Linked DNA regions of Homo sapiens. The protein of the gene in region 4 purifies or fractionates together with the protein of the main gene of each other region. This does not show direct contact. Each region holds a gene or a part of one and is shown on either strand. Other genes may lie near its edges.

Evidence for each region.
Region 1: the proteins of AKAP12 (region 4) and PPP4R3A fractionate together in Homo sapiens (co-fractionation; one large-scale study listed by BioGRID). This does not show direct contact.
Region 2: the proteins of AKAP12 (region 4) and ACADM purify together in Homo sapiens (affinity purification with mass spectrometry; one large-scale study listed by BioGRID and IntAct). This does not show direct contact.
Region 3: the proteins of AKAP12 (region 4) and TRAP1 purify together in Homo sapiens (affinity purification with mass spectrometry; one large-scale study listed by BioGRID and IntAct). This does not show direct contact.
Region 5: the proteins of AKAP12 (region 4) and ORC4 purify together in Homo sapiens (affinity purification with mass spectrometry; one large-scale study listed by BioGRID and IntAct). This does not show direct contact.
Region 6: the proteins of AKAP12 (region 4) and PRKAR2A purify together in Homo sapiens (affinity purification with western blotting; 2 studies listed by BioGRID and IntAct, with this or other methods). This does not show direct contact.

The regions. Positions count from the first base shown.
Region 1 is NC_000014.9:91,479,311-91,482,810, reverse strand, and holds part of PPP4R3A (serine/threonine-protein phosphatase 4 regulatory subunit 3A), read left to right. Parts: intron 1-617; coding exon 618-1,235; intron 1,236-3,500. UniProt on the Homo sapiens protein: Regulatory subunit of serine/threonine-protein phosphatase 4. May regulate the activity of PPP4C at centrosomal microtubule organizing centers.
Region 2 is NC_000001.11:75,734,709-75,738,564, forward strand, and holds part of ACADM (medium-chain specific acyl-CoA dehydrogenase, mitochondrial isoform a precursor), read left to right. Parts: intron 1-82; coding exon 83-163; intron 164-3,856. UniProt on the Homo sapiens protein: Medium-chain specific acyl-CoA dehydrogenase is one of the acyl-CoA dehydrogenases that catalyze the first step of mitochondrial fatty acid beta-oxidation, an aerobic process breaking down fatty acids into acetyl-CoA and allowing the production of energy from fats.
Region 3 is NC_000016.10:3,710,784-3,714,639, forward strand, and holds part of TRAP1 (heat shock protein 75 kDa, mitochondrial isoform 1 precursor), read right to left. Parts: intron 1-3,856.
Region 4 is NC_000006.12:151,242,787-151,246,642, forward strand, and holds part of AKAP12 (A-kinase anchor protein 12), read left to right. Parts: intron 1-3,856. UniProt on the Homo sapiens protein: Anchoring protein that mediates the subcellular compartmentation of protein kinase A (PKA) and protein kinase C (PKC).
Region 5 is NC_000002.12:147,951,117-147,954,972, forward strand, and holds part of ORC4 (origin recognition complex subunit 4), read right to left. Parts: intron 1,409-3,856; coding exon 1,257-1,408; intron 1-1,256. UniProt on the Homo sapiens protein: Component of the origin recognition complex (ORC) that binds origins of replication. DNA-binding is ATP-dependent. The specific DNA sequences that define origins of replication have not been identified yet.
Region 6 is NC_000003.12:48,837,519-48,841,374, reverse strand, and holds part of PRKAR2A (cAMP-dependent protein kinase type II-alpha regulatory subunit), read left to right. Parts: intron 1-3,856. UniProt on the Homo sapiens protein: Regulatory subunit of the cAMP-dependent protein kinases involved in cAMP signaling in cells. Type II regulatory chains mediate membrane association by binding to anchoring proteins, including the MAP2 kinase.

The DNA.
Region 1 (3,500 bases), on a different chromosome or scaffold from region 4:
TTATAGAAGATCAGTGACTCACTTTGGTCCAAAGCCAGTTTGTTCATGCTCTTTGGCCCTTGGTTTCTACAATCAATTGATGTTAAATATTTTCCTTTTTGCTTATAATTATATATATTTTCTGTGATCATAACATTATGATATTTGGTGTTTATTTGGTCTTCACCTCAGAGTTAAATATTGAAGAGTTTGGTGGTGGCAGTGTCCTTTAGCACAGTCCTAGGACTGTTTCTGAGACTTGCCTTGGTCTGCTGGAAAAGAGGGCCAGGGATATGAGATGTTAGTGGCTGTTTTAGCATCAGGCTTCTATGTTGTGGGTCTGCAGAGGGCTGTTTCGTAACAGTCTCACTTAGTTTAGCCTGTCCTAGAAAGTTGTTCTTGCCAGCAGACCTCATACTTTATAGGGAAGCTCATTCTGTTTTTGAACTTTGACTAACTTCCTTAAAATTGAAAGTATACATATTTGGAGAAATGTAATGTAGAAAAGTAGGCAGTTTTGTCTTGAAAATGACCATTATAGGTTTCTTACAACATTTCTAGTATTCATCTTAGAGTAGCATTTAGGTTTGCTGGTCACCTGTTATCTATTTTGTCAGCAATTAAATTTTTTTTCATAGGTTCAAGGAAAGGACCCTTCCGTGGACATCACTCAGGACCTTGTGGATGAATCTGAAGAGGAGCGTTTTGATGATATGTCATCGCCAGGCTTAGAATTGCCATCTTGTGAATTAAGTCGCCTTGAAGAAATTGCAGAACTTGTGGCATCATCTTTACCTTCACCTCTTCGTCGTGAAAAACTTGCACTGGCACTAGAAAATGAGGGTTATATTAAAAAGCTCCTGGAGCTTTTTCATGTGTGTGAAGATTTGGAAAATATTGAAGGACTGCACCACTTGTATGAAATTATCAAAGGCATCTTTCTCTTGAATCGAACTGCTCTTTTTGAAGTTATGTTCTCTGAAGAATGTATAATGGACGTCATTGGATGTTTAGAATATGATCCTGCTTTATCACAACCACGAAAACACAGGGAATTTCTAACAAAAACAGCCAAGTTTAAAGAAGTGATTCCCATATCAGATCCTGAGCTGAAACAAAAAATTCATCAGACATACAGAGTTCAGTATATACAAGATATGGTTCTACCAACTCCTTCGGTCTTTGAAGAAAACATGTTATCAACACTTCACTCTTTTATCTTTTTCAATAAGGTAGAGATTGTTGGCATGTTGCAGGTGAGTTAGATCATTCCTTTTTTCATATTTCAAGAGATGCAGCGAAAACAATTTGCTCCTTTTAAATACATACATTGAGTTTTAATTTTGTTAATGTATAAAGTTAAGTATTGTGAGTTATTTTAAGAGATTATAATATACAATAATAATACGAGACCAGAAGGTTACTCTATCTGGGGTAGGAGAGGTAAGTGTGACAAATGTAGTTTGAAGAAATGGTATGAGGGGATGATTTTTTGGATACAGGGTCTTGCTCTGTCACCCAGGCTGTAGGGCAATAATGCAGTCTCAGCGACTGCAACCTCCACCTTCGCTTCCCTGGCTGAAACAATCCTCCCACTGCAGCCTCCTGAGTAGCTGGGACCACAGGTGTGCACCACCACCCCCAGCCAATTTTTGTATTTTTTGTAGAGATGGAGTTTGTCATACTGCCCAGGCTGGCCTCAAACCTCTGAGCTCAAGCAATCTGCCTGCCCTGGCCTCCCAAAGTGCTGGGATTACAGGTGTGAGCCACTGGGCCCAGCCTGATTTTTTTTTTTTTAAGTTGAGGTCTTGCTCTGTTGCCCAGGCTGGAGTGCAGTGGCACAGCCATAGCTTATTGCAACCTTGAACTCCTGGGCTTGAGCCGTCCTCCCACCTCAGCCTTCCAATTAGCTAAGACTACAGATGCATGCTACCATAGCCACCTTTTAAAAATTTTTTTGTAAAGAATGGATCTCACTTTGTTGCCCAGGCTGGTCTCAAACTCCTGGCTTCAAGCAATTCTCCCACCTTAGCCTTGCAAAGTGTTGGGATTACAGTTGTGAGCCACCATACTCAACTATAGGAGGATAATATTAATGAAATGGTTGAATGCTGAACTTTGGGGTTATTACTCTATGAATTTTGCATAGAATAGAACAGATTGGAAGAGGAAAGAGTGAAGCACAAAGCCAAGAGAAATGTCACCAAACACAGAATATAAATTCTAATGAGAATTGTGGGCCAGGCGCTATGGCCTGTCTCTACCAAAAAAATAAAATTTAAAACGAATTTGTAAAATTCCCAGATAATGATACGGTAAAAGTCCAGTTTCAGGGTCTAGGGAATGTAGCAGAGGAGGCAAATTATAACTGCATGTATCCCTACCAAAAGCCACGTTTTGCTAAGGGGTGTGCCTGTGGGTGAGTTAAACCCATGTGAATTTGAGTTTCAGCTCCGTCTGTCACTTAATAACAGTAGCTATGTGAGTTGGGCAGCCTTAACTTCTTAAAGCTTCGGTTTCCCCATCTGAAGGATGGTGACATTAATGCCTACCCTGTAAAGTTGTCTGAAAATTAACTGAGGTCAGGCATGTAAAGAAAGTGTTTAATATGATGTAAGATTCATGGGAATTTTTTAAGTGTCTATTGATAATTGCTTATTAAAATGTAGATTTTTTTTTCTTATAGTATGCCCAATCTCTCTGATCTGGTGTTTTAGGGTATTTGCATCACAGTCCCCTAGGGTGCAGTATCATGAATTCTGCACAAAACCTGAGTCAAAGTCTCTGAGAGCTAGACAATAATTTGCGTTTGTAACACCCCCAAAATTAGAAAAGCTCTTACTGTGTCATCCCAGTGTGTGAATTGGTCTATTCTAACTGAAATAGAAGTTTACATAGGCTGGGCCTAGTGGCTTATACCTGTAATCCCACCACTTTGGGAAGCCAAGGCAGGAGGATCGATTGAACCCAGAAGTTAAAGACTAGCCTGGGGCTGGATGCGGTAGCTCACGCCTACAATCCCAGCACTTTGGGAGGCCAAGGCGGGTGGATCACCTGAGGTCAAGAGTTCAAGACCAGCCTGGCCAACATGGCGAAACCCCGTCTCTACTAAAAATACAACAATTAGCTAAACGTGATGGTGGACGCCTGTAATCCCAGACTCGGGAGGCTGAGACGAGAGAATCATTTGAATCTGGGAGGCGGAGGTTGCAGTGAGCTGAGATCACACCATTGCACTCTAGCCTGGGCAACAGGAGTGAAATTCTGTCTCAAAAAAGATTTTTTTTTTTTTTTAAATTAGCCAGGTATGGTGATGCATGCCTATAATCCCAGCCATGTGGGAGGCTGAGTTGGGAGAATCGCTTGAGCCCAGGAGTTTGAGTCTGCAGTGAGCAATGATCATGCCACCGCACTCAAGCCTGAGCAACAGAGTGAGACCCTATCTCAACAACAAAAAAATAAGTTTGTGTAGTACAAAGAAAGAATTGTTATTTGCACCCATACACACACACACACACACA
Region 2 (3,856 bases), on a different chromosome or scaffold from region 4:
TTTCATTTTGAATTATAGCATCTCTGAATTTACATATCCAATAAAAATGACTTGATTTTTTAATGTCAATTTTCTTCGGTAGCAAATGCCTATTATTATTGCTGGAAATGATCAACAAAAGAAGAAGTATTTGGGGAGAATGACTGAGGAGCCATTGATGTGTGTGAGTATGTGTAACTGCCGCTTTATTTCACACTTAAGAAGGGAACAAAGGTGCTATTTCTCCTTTTCAGTCTATATGTATATATTGGGATATTTAGCATTGAAACAAAACTTAGCAACATATTATTACAATGATGTGTCAAGGATGCCAAGAAAGTATCATAATAGGCCGAGGGCAATGGCTCGCACCTGTAATCCCAGCACTTTGGGAGGCGGAGGCGGGCAGATTACTTGAGGTTAGGAGTTCACAGCCTGGCTAACGTGGTGAAACCCCATCTCTACTGAAAATACAAAAATTAACCAGGCGTGATGGCGCCTGCCTATAATCCCAGCTGCTCAGGAGGCTGAGGCATAAGAATCGCTTGAACCCGAAAAGTGGAAGATGCAGTGAGCAGAGATCACACCACTGCACTGCTACCTGGGCGACAGAGTGAGTGAGACCCTGTCTCAAAAAAAAAAAAAAAAAAAAGGTGTCATCATAATTTTGTTGCTTATTTCCAGGAGAAGAGAGATCTACTTGTGATGTTTTTGGGATGTCAAAAAGTGTCATAATAATCCTCTTACTTCAGGAGAGAGAGCTCTATTTAGTGGAGCATTCTACACTTTAAGAACTGAGTCATTGTGTCAGGAAGTTCAGATTGAATGTAGGGCAATGTGTGTTTGAACTAGTAGTGTTTTGAATTAGTAAAAAATTAATGTTGGCTGGTCGTGGTGGCTCACGCCTGTAATCCCAGCACTTTGAGAGTCTGAGGCAGGTGGATCACCTGAGGTTAGGAGTTCGAGACCAGCCTAGCCAAAATGGAGAAACCCCATCTCTACTAAAAATACAAAAATTAGCTGGATGTGGTGGCGCTTGCCAGCTACTTGGGAGGCTGAGGCATGAGAATCTCTTGAACCTGGGAGGCAGAGGTTGCTGAGTAAAGATGGCGGCACTGCACTCCAGCCTGGGCAACAGAGTGAGACTCTGTCTCAAAAAAAAAAAAAAGCAATTAATGTGGGCTGGGCATAGTGGCTCACACCTGTAATGTCAGCACTTTGAGAGGCTAAGGCAGGAGAACTGCTTGAGCCCGGGAGTTCAAGACCAGCCTGGGTAACACAGTGAGACCCTGTCTCTAAATAAATAAATAAATGAATAAATAAATAAAAATTAATGTGAACCTGTAACTGAAGAAATAGCAACTTATTTGTTGAATGACTGAATGACTTGGGAAGAATAGTTGTAGAGTTTATTTAAACCTCTGAAAGCAACTCAACAAATTTTTAAATTAGATTTTTTTAACAAGATAAATACACACACAGACATACACACACACACACACACACACACACACACACGCTCTATTCTGAAACTGTTGTTTACCTAAGGATTTTTACTTCTTGTTTACTCAAACATATTTCAATCTAAGGTGTGGTTGTTATACTGAAATACAGTAGATGTATTAGTTTTGAGCTAATGATGAGAATTCATCTTAAAGAACAGAAAATAATATTTGAAAATAAATGTTTTTTATTTCAGATACCTAAAATTTCAAGCAAACTGTTTAATAAAGGAATTTGTACATATTTGCTAGGAAATTTGCAATTTTTTTTAACAATTGAGAGGTTAGCTAAACATTCTCACTATTGTCTATAAGAACTGTGTGAAACGTCTAGATTGTTCTCCTGTAGCATATACAGTCAGCTCTCCATATCCATGAGGGAATAGTTTAGGACAGGTTGCCCTCCATATCAAAATTTTTGGTTGCCAAGTCTGTTATACAAAATGTACAGTTAGCCCTTTGTATCTGTGGGTTTTGCTCCACAGTTGGTTAAATTCCAAAATTCGTGGATGCCAAAGGCAAACTTTTAAAAAATTAAAATTTTATAACTTTTCTAATTATAAAATACTGAGTATAGAAAATTTAGAAATGTTTTAAGTAGAACAAAAATATCTGTAATCCCTCAGATATGGAGTTAATTAGTATTACTTCCTTATTGTAGTGCCTACCACATTTTTAAATATGTAATTGTGTTTTTAACAGTTAGCCCCCATTATATACATGTAGTTTTATGTACATCTTTATTTAACAACATGAACATTTTCTTATGCCTTCCTTCTTTTTACATGCTGTAACAATACTGCATAATTTGCTATCTAATGGATATGCTATAAATTGTTTCACTTTTCTGTACTGTTGAATGTTTAAACTCCTTGGGTTTTTACTTTGGAAAATAATGTTATGGTAAAAAATAATACAGAAAAAAAATAAATAAAAATGATCAAATAAGAAGCCAAGAACAGGCCAGGCATGGTGGCTCATGCCTGTAATCTTAACACTTTGGGAAGCCAAGGCAGGAGGATCGCTTGAGGCCAGGAGTTCAAGACCAGCCTGGACAACGTTGAGAGACTGCCACCACACACACACACAAATATATATATATATATATATATATATATATATATATATATATATATATGAAACCAAAAAGAAGAAAAGAAGACAAAAACAACTCTGAGGAACCAGTAGTGACAAGCCATTTTGTATAGAAAAAAACAGGCTCATTTACTTCACAGGCTCTAAAAACTTCACTGTATTATGAAACAGACAGATGTCTAATAGCATATTTCAGGGAAAAAAATACCTTAAAGGTGGTTAAAACAAAATTTTGGTACTTAAAAGGGGCATCTTTTATGGACAACTCCTTAATTTGTCATGATGCTGAATACATCAAATCTCCAGGTAGCAGAGTAATCTAGTTCAGTTAACTTGAGTGACACCTGAATCCCCTCTACAGAATCCCTGTCAAAAGACCATCTGGCTGACATGTTTTTATACCTCAGGTGCCTGGGAATCAACACCTTCTGAAACAGCATCATTTGCGAGCATCTGTTATCATTAGAAAAATATTTTGGATTACATAATGCTTAAGCACAGAACCTGTCATTTTTTTTTTTATAATTTTACCAGTTCATACTGTAATAGGTGTTCAATAAATGTTAGAGTGATTTCACTGTACTTTTCTTTGGCTATATTGCCCTTCAGATGTTTGAGTATAGTTATATTTATTTATTTATTTATTTTTTGAGACGGAGTCTCGCTCTGTTGCCCAGGTCGGAGTGCAGTGGTGTGATCTTGGCCCACTGCAACCTCTGCCTCCCAGGTTCAAGCGATTCTCCTGCCTCAGCCTCCCAAGCAGCTGGGACTACAGGTGCGTGCCACCACGCCTGCCTAATTTTTTGTATGTTTAGTAGAGACAAGATTTCACTGTGTTAGCCAGGATGGTCTCTATCTCCTGACCTCATGATCTGCCCACCTTGGCCTCCCAATGTGCTGGAATTACAGGTGTGAGCCACCATGCCCAGCCAAGTATTGTTATTATTTTTTTTTTCTGAAATGGAGTCTCGCTCTGTTGCCTAGGCTGGAGTGCAGTGGCACCATCTCGGCTCACTGCAACCTCCACCTCCCAGGTTCAAGCAATTCTTCCTCAGCCTCCCAAGTAGCTGGGATTACAGGCGCCCGCCACCAAGCCTGGCTAAGTTTTTGTATTTTTAGTAGAGACAGGGTTTCACCATGTTGGCCAGGCTGGTCTCGAACTCCTAACCTCAGGTGACCCACCTGCCTCGGCCTCCCAAAGTGCTGGGATTACAAACCTGAAGCCTCAGCCACCACGCCCGGCCCTAAGTAATCATTTCTAGTGCCCCTATATATGCTTA
Region 3 (3,856 bases), on a different chromosome or scaffold from region 4:
TGAATAGCCTCCTGCTCTTAATATGGCATTTAATTTAGCTATCTCAAAATTAATTTCTTTTATATGTGTGTGTGTATATATATATATATATATATATTTTTTTTTTTGAGACACTGTCACTCTGTCACCCAGACTGTAGTGCAGTGGCGTGATCACAGCTCACTGCAGCCTCGACTTCTCAAGGCTTAAGGGAGCCTCCCACTTCAGCCTCTTGGGTAGCTGGGACCACAGGCACACCCAGCTAATTGGAAAAAAAAAAAAAAGGGTTTTTTGGTAGAGATGGGGGTCTCTCTAGGTTGCCCAGGCTGGTCTCAAACTCCTAAACTCACAGGATCCTCCCGCCGCAGCCCCCAAAGTGCTGGGATTACAAGCATGAGCTACCAGGCCTGGCCAATTTTTTACCTTCTAGCCACATTTCTTAATTATATGGCTATGAAGTAACTGAGCCATTCCTTTTAAAACCAATGATTCAGCTACATGTCCTTTCAATCTACCCAATCTACAGGAATTCACCTGGTTAAAAAGCCAATGGCAGGGCTGGGAACGGTGGCGCACACCTGTAATCCCAGCACTTTGGGAGGCCGAGGCAGGCAGATCACAAGGTCAGAAGTTCAAGACCAGCCTGGCCAACATGGTGAAACTCTACCTCAACTAAAAATACAAAAATTAGCCGGGCACGGTAGTGCATGCCTGTAGCCCCAGCTACTTGGGAGGCTGAGGCAGGAGAACTGCTTGAACCCGGGAGGTGGAGATTGCAGTGAGCCGAGTTCGTGCCACTGCACTCCAGCCTGGGAAACAGAGCAAGACTCCATCTTGAAAAAAACAAAAAAAAAACAAAAACCAAAACAAAAACAAAAAAAACACAGGTGGCAGTAATACTCCCGCAAGTAGATACTGTTTCTCCAAGCTACAGCTTTTATGGTAATTCCTAGTGGTTTTAGCAGAAATAACCAGCCACACCACAAATAAACTCCCTGAAATCTATTTTGTTAAATGCTGTGGAACTACAGGGAAGCCACTTTGTGGACTAAGAGCAGCTTCCTAGTAGAAGGCAGGTCTTCAGTAGGACTAAGCAGGACGGTGGTAAGAAAAGTTCTAGCTGGCTACACTTGAGGCACCAAAAACGCCATCCATGAACATTCTCTGGCTTTGAACCCAAAAGCACTTTTTACTTCATTTGAGTATGAATGGATACATTTTCAATCGCTATCAAGATTCTTTGTCAGGCCCGACGTGGTAGCTCATGTCTGTAATCCCAGCACTTTGGGAGGCCAAAGCAGGCAGATCAAAAGGTCAAAAGATTGAGACCATCTTGCCCAACACGGTGAAACCTCGTCTCTACTAAAAATACAAAAATTGGCTGGCCATGGTGGCATGCACCTGTAGTCCCAGCTACTCAGGAGGCTGAGGCAGGAGAACTGCCTGAATTCAGGAGGCGGAAGTTGCAGTGAGCTGAGGTCATGCCACTGCACTTCAGCCTGGCGACAGAAAGAATCTGTCTCAAAAAAAAAAAAAAAAAAAAAAAAAAAAAAAAAAGATATGTCAGCATTTTGAGACAAGCAAGTATCACAGGCCTCAGTAACAGCCTCTTTCATGGAACTCACCTTTGTCACATGGTATTTACTGACATGGGGGGCAGGAGTAAATGTTTATTTTCCCACAGTTTTCTTATCAACCTGACACCCCCATCCCCACCCCGCAAGCTGCATTCCCTCTCTTCCTGCCAAGGGGTAGCAAAATACTTGGAGATTCCTCTTTTGTCTTAGCTTAGGCCAACTACTCACCCAGTAACCAATAAACGCTTTGCTAATCTCTTACATTCGGATTGATGTGTTTGTTTCCAAGACAGAGTCTTGCACTGTCGCCCAGGAGGGAGTGCAGTGGCACAATCTTGGCTCACTGCAACCTCCAACCTCCACCTCCCAGGTTCAAGCAATTCTCGTGCCTCAGCCTCCCAAGTATCTGGGATTACAGGCGCCTGCCACCACCCTGGCTAATTTCTTTGTATTTTTAGTAGAGACGGGGTTTCGCCATGTTGGCCAGGTTGGTCTCAAATTCCTGAACTCAAGTGATCCACCCACCTCGGCCTCCCAAAGTGCTGGGATTACAGACGAGAGCCACCGCGCCCGGCCTGATGTGTTCTTTTTCAGGCACTCAGATAACTCAGTTCCCTTGGTCCTAACTAAGCTGAAGGTCCTCCTGGTGGCCTTGGACAGCTGGGCCACACCTTCCTCTGCCGTCTAAGTGCCAGCACCACAGCTTAATCAGACGACAAACATGTCATGGACGCTACACCTCTAGCGTCATCTCAGCAACACAAAGAGCTGTTTCACAGACAGAGTCGCAACTGACCAGCAAGTACTACTCCCCTCCACTCTGAAAAGAACAGCCGGAGAGCACCAGAAATTCACCTGAATTCTCCTGAAGGGTGCAGCACACAAGACACGGAAATCAAACAGCACAGGCTCCAAACAAAGGGAGAGCAGAGGGAGGAGGCAAAACCCGTCAACAAAACGAAGTACTGAAGGGGAGGGCGCAGCAGGCAGGCACCACCTACAGGAGCGGGGTCCAGGTGAGGCTCTTTTTGGAAGATGAAACAAACTAGCTAGTACTTGAGCCCTGAGCAAAGTGAGGAAACCAGCTCTCCCGACCTTCCTGGTGCTGGCAGGGGACCTACTCTCACAACTCTGATTTCCAAGACAGGAAGTTCCAGCAAAGGCTCCAGCTTACAGAGAACAAAAAGGCCCAAGATCTTAACGCCTGCACCAACCAGTCCTATCGTGGTTGCCTCAGTCATGTTCTGGCAATTTCACGAAAACAAGAGCATCTGGCATGACCAGGAGACTGGACTCGGCACCCTTGGTGATTGTGGCAGTCACCTCGTCATGCAAAATGACCAACCCGTCACCGTACCTGCCTGACCACAGAATCACGTTTGCTTTGGGAGACTGCGTCTGCTGTTGATCTTTCCAGGTCTTCCCTCTCCTTTAGGAGGCGGCCTCATCCTTCTACTGGCACATCTGACACTTCTGACAGTTGGAGCTCTGACGAAAAGCTCTCATGGTGGGCCACGTGGCTGGGCTCCCCACACACCAGGCCCAGGGCTGGCTCTGTGACTGTCCTGAGGAATGCAGGATGAGGCTCCTACGCACAAGCTTATATCTGACAGAAAAGACACAACTGCTAGCCTCATTCACCATCACTCCTGCACACTCCCGCAAGTCTTTCATCAAACCAATTATTCAGAGCTATCTCCTTACCCTTGCACCTGCAGCTTTCCAGACATGGAACGTTCCTCCCTCCCCTCCAGTGAAAACAGCCTTGGACACTCGGCCCAAATCGCTCCTCATCTGTGAAACTTACCCTGGGGCAAGCAGCTCTTGTTTCTCTAATGTGCTGTCCAGGCCACCAAGATGGCCCTGGTACACTGCTCAGCAGCCACCTATGACTCCAGACAGCAGGGTCACATTTTCTTTGACGACTCGGGGGCATTGGAAATGTATTTGCTGAATAAACTGTTATGGGCAAAAATGACAAATATAAAGTCCACAAGCGGATATCCTAGCCCACCCCTCACAGAAATATTCTGAGGGTAGGCCAGGCGCAGTGGCTCACGCCTGTAATCCCAGCATTTTGGGAGGCCAAGGCTAGTGGATCATGAGGTCAGGAGTTCGAGACCACCCTGGCCAGCATAGTGAAACCCCATCTCTATTAAAAATACAAAACCTAGCTGGGTGTGGTGGCATGCGCCTGTAGTCCCAGCTACGTGGGAGGCGAAGTCAGGAGAATCACTCGAACCCAGGAGGCGGAGGGTGTGGTGAGCTGAGGTTGCACCACTGCACTCCAGCCTGGGCAA
Region 4 (3,856 bases):
CACGCCTGGTTGTGCCGACCAACGGTGTTCCTTCATGCGTGCCATGTTGCCTGGCACAGAGGCAGCTCTCAGGAATACTTGTGGAAAGAGGAAGGGGTGATATTGGCTCCTTGGTTTTGATTGGAAAATATCAAGTTGGAGAATACCTTGACCTATCTGATTTTACTACAATTTAACCCTTGATCATTTCATTATCACGTGAGACTGATTATGATAGTGACTAAGGCAAGTCAGTCTGTTCGGTTATTAATAGATCAAGTGAATAGTTTGACCAAAAACTTCAGATTTGGGGGCTTTGGATTCTGTTTCTCTAGATATAGAGTGACTTGTTAGCATTGCAATTTCAAATTGCGTTTTATCTTAAATAGACAAATATATGAAGTGCATATGGCTCAAATGAGTCCATTTCATACCCTGAGTTACTTAGGATTACATCTTGAACTTCCTTGATGTGTCTGTGGACGGTTGGGGAGGTTTAGGCTAATACATCATTTTTCCCTCCTTGGATAGAATGTGGTCATTAATTAAAGGTTGTAGGCAGATCTTTTTCTATCTAATAGCTGACATTTATATCACATGCATGCTATCTATTTAGCAATTGGATTTACTTTCCTTTTTTTCTGCTAGTTTTAGTTACCAGTTATTCACTAAGTGCCCTTATCTGAACAGACATTACACTGGTTGAATTATCACTTGTATTAGGTCAAATGGAGAGTTAAACAAGCTTTTGATTACTCAGGCTTAACGTTTAGATGCACTAAAGCAGAAGTCTTGGTTTTATCTATGGTTCATTTCTGTAAAATGGAAGGAGTCTTTATCTTCTATTCAATCTTTTGTAATCTTTATTTTTTCCGTTAGATCCAGAGATAGACTGGAAATCTTTTACAGTCTTTATATGTAAGATCCAGGCGGGGGCAGGGGGAATGGCTTGGTCTGTTATCTGCCAGGGTTTAATTTTGAGACATGGCCGTTTCACAACTGCAGGGTGCGGGAAGATTAGATGACCTGAATGCTGGTGGTAAGTAAAGCCTCACACTTCACATTATTCCTTAATTGTCTGTTTTTAAAAATTTGTCTTAAAAAAATATTAAGGTGGCAACATATTCAGGTGGCAACAGAGGGTGGGGTGACCAGTGACAAACTGACTTCCATGTCTCTGGCTAATCTTGATTTCTGGAGCCAGGCTCCAGACTAAGTCTGGACAATCAATTAATTAGCCTTTCTATATGTATTGCCTGATGAATGATTTCAATGCTGGACATTGAACAATGGTCTGTTGCAACAGGGTGAGGCCATTGTCTCTGGCAGGTGGGGAGATGGGGGCTCTTGTTAGCTCCATTTGATTACAAGAGCCTTGAATCACCAAAACATAAAGATGTACTCGAATAGAAGAGTCCGTTGTCTGACTGGTAAATTTAAGGATGTGTTTGACCCTCGTGCATTAAAACAGACAATTGGCCGGGTGCGGTGGCTCACGCCTGTAATCCCAGCACTTTGGGAGGCTGAGGCAGGCAGATCACAAAGTCAGGAGATCCAGACCATCCTGGCTAACACGGTGAAACCCCATCTCTACTAAAAATACAAAAAATTAGCCAGGCGTGGTGGCGGGCGCCTGTAGTCCCAGCCACTCGGGAGGCTGGGACAGGAGAATGGCGTGAACTCGGGAAGCGGAGTTTGCAATGAGCCGAGTTGGCGCCACTGCACTCCAATCTGGGCAACAGAGCGAGACTCTGTCTCAAAGAAACAAACAAACAAACAAACAAAACCAGACAATTGAGGCGGCCAGCTGCATTTCATAATTCCTCCCATAAGCTTCCTCCTATTTGCCACTTGTTTAGCAATGGAAATGGAGAACGAAGATGGCCTCAAAGTGACTACATCACCAGTGTTACAAAAATGGGCCAGAATTTAAGGCAAGAATTATATGTTTCTTAATAGAGGGATGTTTCTCTGTGTGTGGCTACTTGTATTCCTGTGGATTTTTACCAGATTATAAGAGCTGCTAATTTCTGATCAGAACAGAGACCAAAAATTGGAGATATGGATGTGGGGATGATTCTTTTGGGTACCGATAGACTGCAGGAATCGCAGGGCTTCCTTTAAATCCATTACAGCTTATAGGCTAGTGGATGAATAAGATAAGTGGAGATTTTCTCTTGAAATATTTCCTTCTATGAAGAAAAGGCCTTGAAATGTGCATCCTCTTTGGGTTGACTAATTTCTATGCCTTTACAGCTTTAAGCTGACATTATAAGATTATTCTAGTTTGGATCTTGTAAGATAATTAACAAAATGGAAATAAAATGTTTTGTTTTTAAAAATGCTAATAAATTATTTATTTTCCTTTGTCTTAGTTAGTTTTAATACATATTCAGTGCTTAAAGAACACCAGTGCAGGAAAACTCAAACTAAATGGCATCATCCCCCATCTCTATAATTCTATATGCAGTAGCCATTCATGCGAAGTTAGAAATTAGAATTTATAGCACTAAGCATTCTAAGAAAAATTAAGCCAGTACGTTTATCTCTTGAAAAAAAAAAAAGCAACTAAATTTCCTTGAACCGAATTCTTTTTTTTGGCTCACTGCAACCTTTGCCTCCCAGGTTCAAGCGATTCTCCTGCCTCAGCTTTCCGAGTCGCTGGGATTACAGGCACCCACCACCACGCCCAGCTAAGTTTCTGTATTTTTAGTAGAGATGGGGTTTCACCATGTTGGCCAGGCTGGTCTCAAACTCCTGACCTCGTGATCCACCCGGCTAAGGCAGGAGAATGGCGTGAACCCGGGAGGTGGAGCTTGCAGGGAGCCGAGATGGCACCACTGCAGTCACCACTGCAGTCCAGCCTGGGCGACAGAGAGAGACTCCGTCTCAAAAAAAAAAAAAAAAAAAATCAAAAGCATGTGTTTACCCTTATTAATGATTTTTATTTAAAGTCATTGCATAGCAATATTCATTTAATGTTTATTTTTTAAAAAAATTAATGATTGAGAACTTAAATTTATAAGTAGGGTAAATTACTCACAAATTTAAGTAAAATTTGAAGCCAATATGATGGCTTCTTACATATTCTTTCGAAAACTTCATGCACATGAAAGTAGATAAAAATGGCACAGTCTTTTCCATTTAAGAAAAAGATCATATCACATATAGATTTAGGTTTTGGATGTCTTTTCATATCAGGACATAAATAACTGCCCCCATTCTTATTAATTTGGGTGCATAAATTTCCCTTTTGTGGGTTGAAGCCCTGTAACGATTTAACCAATTCCTTGGGTTTATATTTAGATTGTCCTCGTCCATAAGTGTAATTGCTGAATTGCAAGCTTTATATGCATTTAAAAATTTAACCCGGCAAGGTGCGGTGGCTCACGCCTGTAATCCCAGCACTTTGGGAGGCCGAGGCAGGTGAATCACAAGGTCAGGAGTTCGAGACCAGCCTGGCCAACATGGCGAAACCTCGTCTCTACTAAAAACACAAAAAATTAGCTGGGTGTGGTGGCAGGTGCCTGTAATCCCAGCTACTTGGGAAGCTGAGGCAGGAGAATCTCTTGAACCTGGGAGGGGGAGGTTGCAGTGAGCTGAGATCTCACCACTGCATTCCAGCCTGGGTGACAGTGCAAGACTCCGTCTCAAAAACAAAAACAAAAACAAAAACAAAAAATTTAACCCTTCCTAAATTGACTTTCCAAAGAGGTTCTACCACTTTGCAGTTCCACCGTGGAGATCAGCACTCGTTTTCCCATGCTTTGCCTTCATGGGTATCAGATTTTCCAATACTTGCCAATGTGCTAGGTGAAGAATGGTACCTCAGTTTCCTTGGTGCATTTTTAACTGTGAAGTTGAATGCCTCATCATG
Region 5 (3,856 bases), on a different chromosome or scaffold from region 4:
AGTCACTCTATAGAGAAACAGCACTGGAAGGAGGACTGTTGAAATATGAATTAGAAAAAAGTTTCACTTTTCTGAAAAAGAAAAAGGGTTGTAGGAAAGGAGATGTGAACATGTAAATGTGCCTGACACATCTGCCGAGAATGGAGGGGGAAGAGGATTGCAAGAAAGCTATGGAGGCATGGCAGTCATAGCATGAGAAAAGAGACAACTTTGCTATGGTTTGGATATGGTTTGTCCCCACCAAATCTCATGTTGAAATTTAATTGCCAGTGCAACAGTGGGAAGTCACTGGAGTGGACCCTCATAAATAGATTTAATGCCTTCTTACTGGAGTGAGTTCTTGTTCTCATGGGGATAGATTAGTTCTTGAGACAGTGAGTTGTTATAAATTGAGGTTCCAACTCCTATCTGGTTCGTTTTTGCACATTTCGGTTCCCCATTTGACCTTCCACCATGTCATGCAGCATGAAAACCCTTGCAACAAAGCCAGTGCCATGCGCTTGAATTTTTCAGCCTGCAGAACTGTGAGATAAATAAACTTCTTTTCTTTAAAAATTACCAAGTCTCAGGTATTATGTTATAGCAACACAAAATGGGCCAAGGCACTCTTCAATACCAGTTTTATCTGAATTCAGTAAGTTAATACTACATGCGTGTAAGAAGGTAAACACAAAAAGGCCTGTACTGCTGTCCAAAGGTACACATGGTTCAATATGTACAGAGCCTTCACAAGGCAAAGTGATAGTGATATTGAGACTATAGTTAAAATCATTCTAAAATATCCCATGGAATGAAGAAGCCACTATCTACTGTCAGTGCTTGGTAGAATCTTTTCCATTTCTGGAGATGTGTACTTTGAAAGTTGGAATAGTATTACTTAGAGTTGATTTCAAGCCTTTTCAAAATATGGAAAAAAATCTTAAAATAAAAACTATTACCAAGTTTTCTCAAATATTGGTGAGATTTAACCGCCTCATTACTTGATAATGTAGAAATTATATTTATTAGCATAATCTGATTTCATACTTTTTTCTTCAGTAATTTCACTGGGAGGAGGGAGGTATTCATTAATGGGCTAAGGTAACTACTAAACTGTTTTCCTCAATTTGAGTTGAAAGCAGGATAAATACACCAGGCACTGCTGAAACAAAATTTTTAAAATGACCTAAATAAGTGAAAAAAACTAGCAGTGTCAGCAATTAAGCTTGAATTTTAAAATATTATAATCAATTTTTTTAATGAACAGAAAGACTTACCAATCTACATGTAAGACCAATAACTGCTATTGGGGTCTGTGCAGACTGAGAAATGTCAAAAAGATTATAGAGAAGTGTTTGGTTTTTATGATGAGCAAAAAGATCAAATTCATCTAATATGAAGATCACTGGGCAACTGCTAGTTCGGTCACCTAAGATAAAATAAGAGCATTACATTAATAAGAAATTATATCCACCTTTCCTAAATTTCCAAACCATTTACTATATTTCAGTTTTTAAAACTCAATTCTGTAAACATTCTGATAGCCTACTTTGGGTAGGGGATTTACTGATGCATATACGTTCATTCAACAGAAAAAAATTATTCAAAGGACAAACACAGCCCCGACTGCTCTCAAGAAGTTCAGTCTAGGCTGGGCGTGGTGGCTCATGCCTGTAATCCCAGCACTTTGGGAGGCTGAGGTGGGTGGATCACCTGAGGTCGGGAGTTCGAGACCAGCCTGACAAACATGGAGAAATCCCATCTCTACTAAAAATACAAAATTAGTCAGGTGTGGTGGCGCATGCCTGTAATCCCAGCTACTCGGGAGGCTGAGGCAGGAGAATTGCTTGAACCCAGGAGGCAGAGGTTGTGGTGAGCCAAGATCGTGCCACTGCACTCCAGCCTGGGCAACGAGAGTGAAACTCCATCTCAAAAAAAAAAAGTTCAGTCTAGGCCGGGCATGGTGACTCACGCTTGTAATCCCAGCACTTTGGGAGGCCGAGGTAGGTGGATCACCTAAGGTCAGGGGTTTGAGACCAGCCTGGCCAACATGGTAAAACCCCATCTCTGCTATTAAAAAAAAAAAAAAAAATTAGCTACTTGGGAGGCTGAGGCAGGAGAATCTCTTGAACTGCGGAGGCAGAGGTTGCAGTGAGCTGAGATCACACCATTGTATTCTAGCCTGGGCAACAAGAGTGAAACTCCATCTCCAAAAAATAAAAAGTGCAGTCTAGTTCCTAGACTCTAGTAGAGTTTGTTGTTGAAAAATGTCAAAAATCATTTAAATGACTAAAGACTATTATTTTTATAATTACGTAAATATAATTCTTATTTAATGATTATAAAATTGACAGAGTTTTCTATACCTACACAGAACCAAAACACTTTAAGATTAAAATATAAGGGGAGTCACTAATTAATGAACAAAACTAATGCTTTAAAAGAGAGTTGTTTATTTAGTAGAAATACAAGGTACATTTCTTGTAGAAATACTTTTTATAAACAAACTTGTAGATTATAAAGTTCAACTAAAGCCACTTAAACTCCCTTGAAGCACAACTTTTAGCATTTCAACTACAATGCTTTTCATGGGGAAAGTTCCACATCACCCTCTGGTTACATTTTTCTCACTTCAATAATGGAAACAACTTTAGTAAAAGAATCCCTTTTACCTTAGGCTTAACGCCTTTATATTTGTGTTAAAAAGTGAAACAAATATCTGATAAAAGAAAGACTTATTTCAACAAATAACAAATACAGTAGCCTAAATGACTTAATACTGGTACAAAACCAAAGGGATTACTCAAAAGTCTAGAAAGAGACTTATGTACTAATATAGAATTTTAGTATTTGATAAAATATTGCATTATACATCAGTGGGGAAAATTAGTCTATTCAAAGTCAGATCCCTACTTTACAGGTAAAATCAGAATAAATTCCAAACAAATTATAAATTACAAATATATATATATATTAAATAAAAAGATGGATCAATGAATGTTTTTATAATCTGAAGGAGAGAAAAAACTTTCTAGATAAACTTAACTATGTGGAAAACATAAAACTTTAGATCAGCAGAAAAGTCCAAACCAAACTTAAGGGAAGAGAAAAATAAAACACAAAAATTCCGATAAATAAGCATAACATAAACATTACCACAATAGGTCAAAGACCCAACAGGAAATACAGTCGTGTGTCCCTTAATGACAGAGATACGTTCTGAGAAATGTATTGTTAGGTGACTGCATCGTTGTACAAGCATCCTAACAGTGTACTTACCCAAGCCTAGATGGTATAGCCTACTAGACACCTAGGCTATATGGCATAGCCTATTGCTCCTAGGCTATGAACCTATGAGCATGTGATAGTGTAGACAACTGTAACACAATGCGAAGTATTTGTGTATCTAAACATATCTAAACACAGGAAAGGTACAGTAAAAATATGGTTTTATAATCTAATAGGACCACTGTCACATATGTGGTCTATCATTGAATTAAAGGTTGTTATGTGGCACATGACTGTACATAAACCAGGAAATTTCAAAGGTCAATAAAAATATGAAATGACAAGCATCACCACTATCAGAATTATGCAAATTAAGTAACCAGAATTATGCAAATTAAAGAACAAAATTATTCAAATTAAACTAAGAGCTGAAAGTTTTTCTATTATATGGGCAAACATAAAAATAATAATTGTTTTTGAGGTTGTGAAGAAAAAGGTATTATCAAATATTTTTACAAATTAAACCTTTAGGGTAGTTTTTAAATGTTAAAGATGGTGCCTTTTAACCCAGAATTCTACCCACAGAAATTTATCCCAGGAAATATCTGGATGATCATCAAAGTATCTCTTCTTAATTATAAAAAATTAG
Region 6 (3,856 bases), on a different chromosome or scaffold from region 4:
ATGGTGTTTCACCATATTGACCAGGCTGGTCTCAAACTCCTGACCTTGTGATCTGCCTGCCTCAGCCTCCCAAAGTGCTGGGATTACAGGTGTGAGCCACCGTTCCCGGCCTACCCAAAATAATTTTAAGCAGGGAGTTAAACAGATAGTTATACTCCAGTGCTCATTGCAGCATTATTTACAGTAGTCAAAAGGTGAAAACATGGCACGTGCCTGTAATCCCAGCACTGGGGGGCCGAGGCGGGCGGATCACCTGAGGTCAGGAGTTTGAGACCAGCCTGACTAATATGGTAAAACCCCATCTCTACTAAATTAAAAAAAAAAAATTAGCTGGGTGTGGTGGTGTGCGCCTGTAATCCCAGCTACTCGGGAGGCTGAGGCAGGAGAATCTTTTGAACCCAGGAGGTGGAGGTTTCAGTGAGCGGAGATCACGCCATTGCACTCCAGCCTGGGCAACAAGAGCGAAACTGTCTCAAAAAAAAAAAAAAAAAAAAAGGTGGGCCAGGCCCTGTGGCTCATGCCTGTAATCCCAGCACTTTGGGAGGCCGAGGTGGGCGGATCACGAGGTCAGGAGATTGAGACCATCCTGGCTAACACAGTGAAATTCCGTCTCTACTAAAAATACAAAATATAAGCCGGGCGTGGTGGCGGGTGCCTGTAGTCCCAGCTACTCGGGAGGCTGAGGCAGGAGAATGGCGTGAACCCAGGAGGCAGAGCTTGCAGTGAGCCGAGATTGTGCCACTGCACTCCAGCCTGGGCGAGAGAGTGAGACTCCGTCTCAAAAAAAAAAAAAAAAAAAAAAAAAAAGGTGAAAACAAACCAGGTATCCAGGTATACATCCATAAATGAATGGATAAACAAAATATGGTATATATATACATAAGACCGAGTGTTGCTCTGTCTCCCAGGCTGGAGTGCAGTGGCACGATCCTGCTCACTGCAACCTCCACCTCCTGGGTTCAAGCAGTTCACTTGCCTCAGCCTCCCGAGTAGCTGGGATTACAGGCGTGTGCCACCATGCCTGGCTAGTTTTTGTATTTTTAGTAGAGACGGGGTTTCACCATGTTAGCCAGGCTGGTCTCAAACTCCCAACCTCAGGTGATCCACCCGTCCCGCCTCGACTTCCCAAAGTGATGGGATTACAGGCATGAGCCACCATACCTGACCATCCTTAAGAAGGAATGAAATTCTTATTCATGTTACAGCATTGAAAATATTATCCTAAATGAAATGAGCCAGATACAAAAGGACAAATAATGTATGATTCCACTTACAGAAGGTAACCAGAGTAGCTAAATTCATAGGGACAGAAAGTAGAAGAGAGCTAACCGAGGGCTTGGGGGAAGGTGTAATAGGGTGTTATTGTTTAATAGGTACAGAGTTTCAGTTTGGGATAATGAAAAAGTTCTGAAGTTGGATAATGGTGATGGTTGCACAATGTATGTACTTAATGACACTGAATTGTACACTTAAAATGGTGAAGTGGCACATTTTATGTACATCTTACCACAATTTAAAAAGGAAGAAAAAATGAATTGTATACCCAATGACATTAGAATAAGTCTACACTACTTAAATTAGAAATAGGATATGTTTCAACTCCAGAGCCAATAAAAAAAAGAACAAGAAGTATCATATGTAATAACTGTATATAGCAAGGAAGCTTTGCTTAGTGAGGTCCTTGTGACTAACCACCAATTCAGTTTATAAAATTGTATCCTATTGGAAAGAGTCAAAAAACTTACTAGCTGTTATTTTAATAACAGCTTTAATATCAAACAGGACATAACTTCAAAGTATAAAGTATTATAATGCGTATTTAATGTTGAGAGATGCCTGAAGAGTATAAACTTATTAATAAATTACTGTAGCTGCATACAAACAATAAATCGACATTCAGAATTGTTTCACTTCTGTAATTACCATAAAGCATTTATACTTGCCGGTCTCTCAGCATTTTTTTTTTTTTTTTTTAGGTAACAGCTTTATAGAGATATGCTTCACATACAAGTCAACTATTTAGAATGTATAATTGGTTTTTCATATCTGTGTGCAGCCGTCACCATAATAATTTTTTTTTTTTTTTTAGACGGAATTTTGCTCTTGTTGTCCAGGCTGGAATGCAATGATGTGATCTTGGCTCACTGCAACCTCTGCCTCCCGGGTTGAAGCAATTCTCCTGCCCCAGCCTCCCGAGTAGCCAGGATTACAGGCGCGTGTCACCACGCCCGGCTAATGTTTGTGTTTTTAGTAGAGATGGGGTTTCATCATGTTGGCCAGGCTGGTCTTGAACTCCTGACCTCAGGTGATCTGTCTGCCTCGGCCTCCCAAAGTGTTGGGATTACAGGCATGAGCCACTGCACCTGACCAACCATAACAATTTTTTTTTTTGAGACGGAGTCTTGCTCTGTCGCCCAGGCTGGAGTGCAGTGGCGCGATCTCGGCTGACTGCAAGCTCCACCTCCCAGGTTCGTGCCATTCTTCTGCCTCAGCCTCCCGAGTAGCTGGGACTACAGGCGCCCACCACCATGCCTAGCTAATTTTTTGTATTTTTTTTTTTAGTAGAGACAGGGTTTCACCGTGTTAGCCGGGATGGTCTCGATCTCCTGACCTCGTGATCCGCCTGCCTCGGCCTCCCAAAGTGCTGAGATTACAGGCATGAGCCATCGCGCCTGGCGCCATAACAATTTTTAGAACATTTTTCCTCACTCCAAAAAAAGTCCCATATACTGTTTTGTTTTTCTTTTCTTTTTTCTTTTTTTTTTTTAAAGATGGAGTCTCTCTCTGTTGCTCAGGCTGGAGTGCAGTGGTGAGATCTCAGCTCACTACAATCTCTCCCTCCTGGGTTCAAGCAATTCTTGTGCCTCAGTCTCCTAAGTAGCTGGGATTACCGGCATGTGCCACCATGCCCAGCTAATTTTTGTATTTTTAGTAGAGATGGGGTTTCACCATGATGGCCAGGCTGGTCTCGAACTCCCAACCTCAGGTGATCTGTCCACCACGGCCTCCCAAAGTGCTGGGATTACAGGTGTGAGCCACTGCGCCCGGTCACCATACACTTTAGTCATCACCTCACCAACACCCTCATTCCCCTCATCCCTAGGCATCCTCTAATCTACTTTTGTCTCTACCATTTGCCTATCCTGCATATTTCATATAAATGGAATCATATAATATGTGTTGTTGTTGTTTTTTTTTGAGCGGAGTCTTGCTCTGTCGCCCAGGCTGGAGTGCAGTGGCGTGATCTCAGCTCACTGCAAGCTCCGCCTCCTGGGTTCACGCCATTCTCCTGCCTCAGCCTCCCGAGTAGCTGGGACTACAGGCGCCCGCCACCACACCCGGCTAATTTTTTGTATTTTTAGTGGAGATGGGGTTTCCCTGTGTTAGCCAGGATGGTCTCGATCTCCTGACCTTGTGATCCGCCTGCCTCAGCCTCCCAAAGTGCTGGGATTCCAGGCGTTAGCCACCGTGCCCAGCCAATATGTGGTCTTTTGCCGCTGGCACTTAGCATAATGTACTCAAGGTTCATCCATGTTGTAAGCATGTATCAGTACTTTTTTTTTTTTTTTCCTTTTTCCACTTGTTCTAAATAAACTTCATTTCTTTTTATTGCTAAATACTATTCTGTTGTCTGGAAATACCATTCATTTCTGGATATACCATTTATCCATTCATATGTTGATGGACATATAGATTGTTCCCACTCTTTGACTATTATGAATAATGCTGCTACGAATATTTGTGTGTACAAGTTCTGTGTGGAGCTGTTTTCATTTCTCATAGGAGTAGAATTGCTGGGCCATATAGTAGCTCTGTTTAACCTTTTGAGGAATTGCCAGTCTGTTTTCCAAAGTGG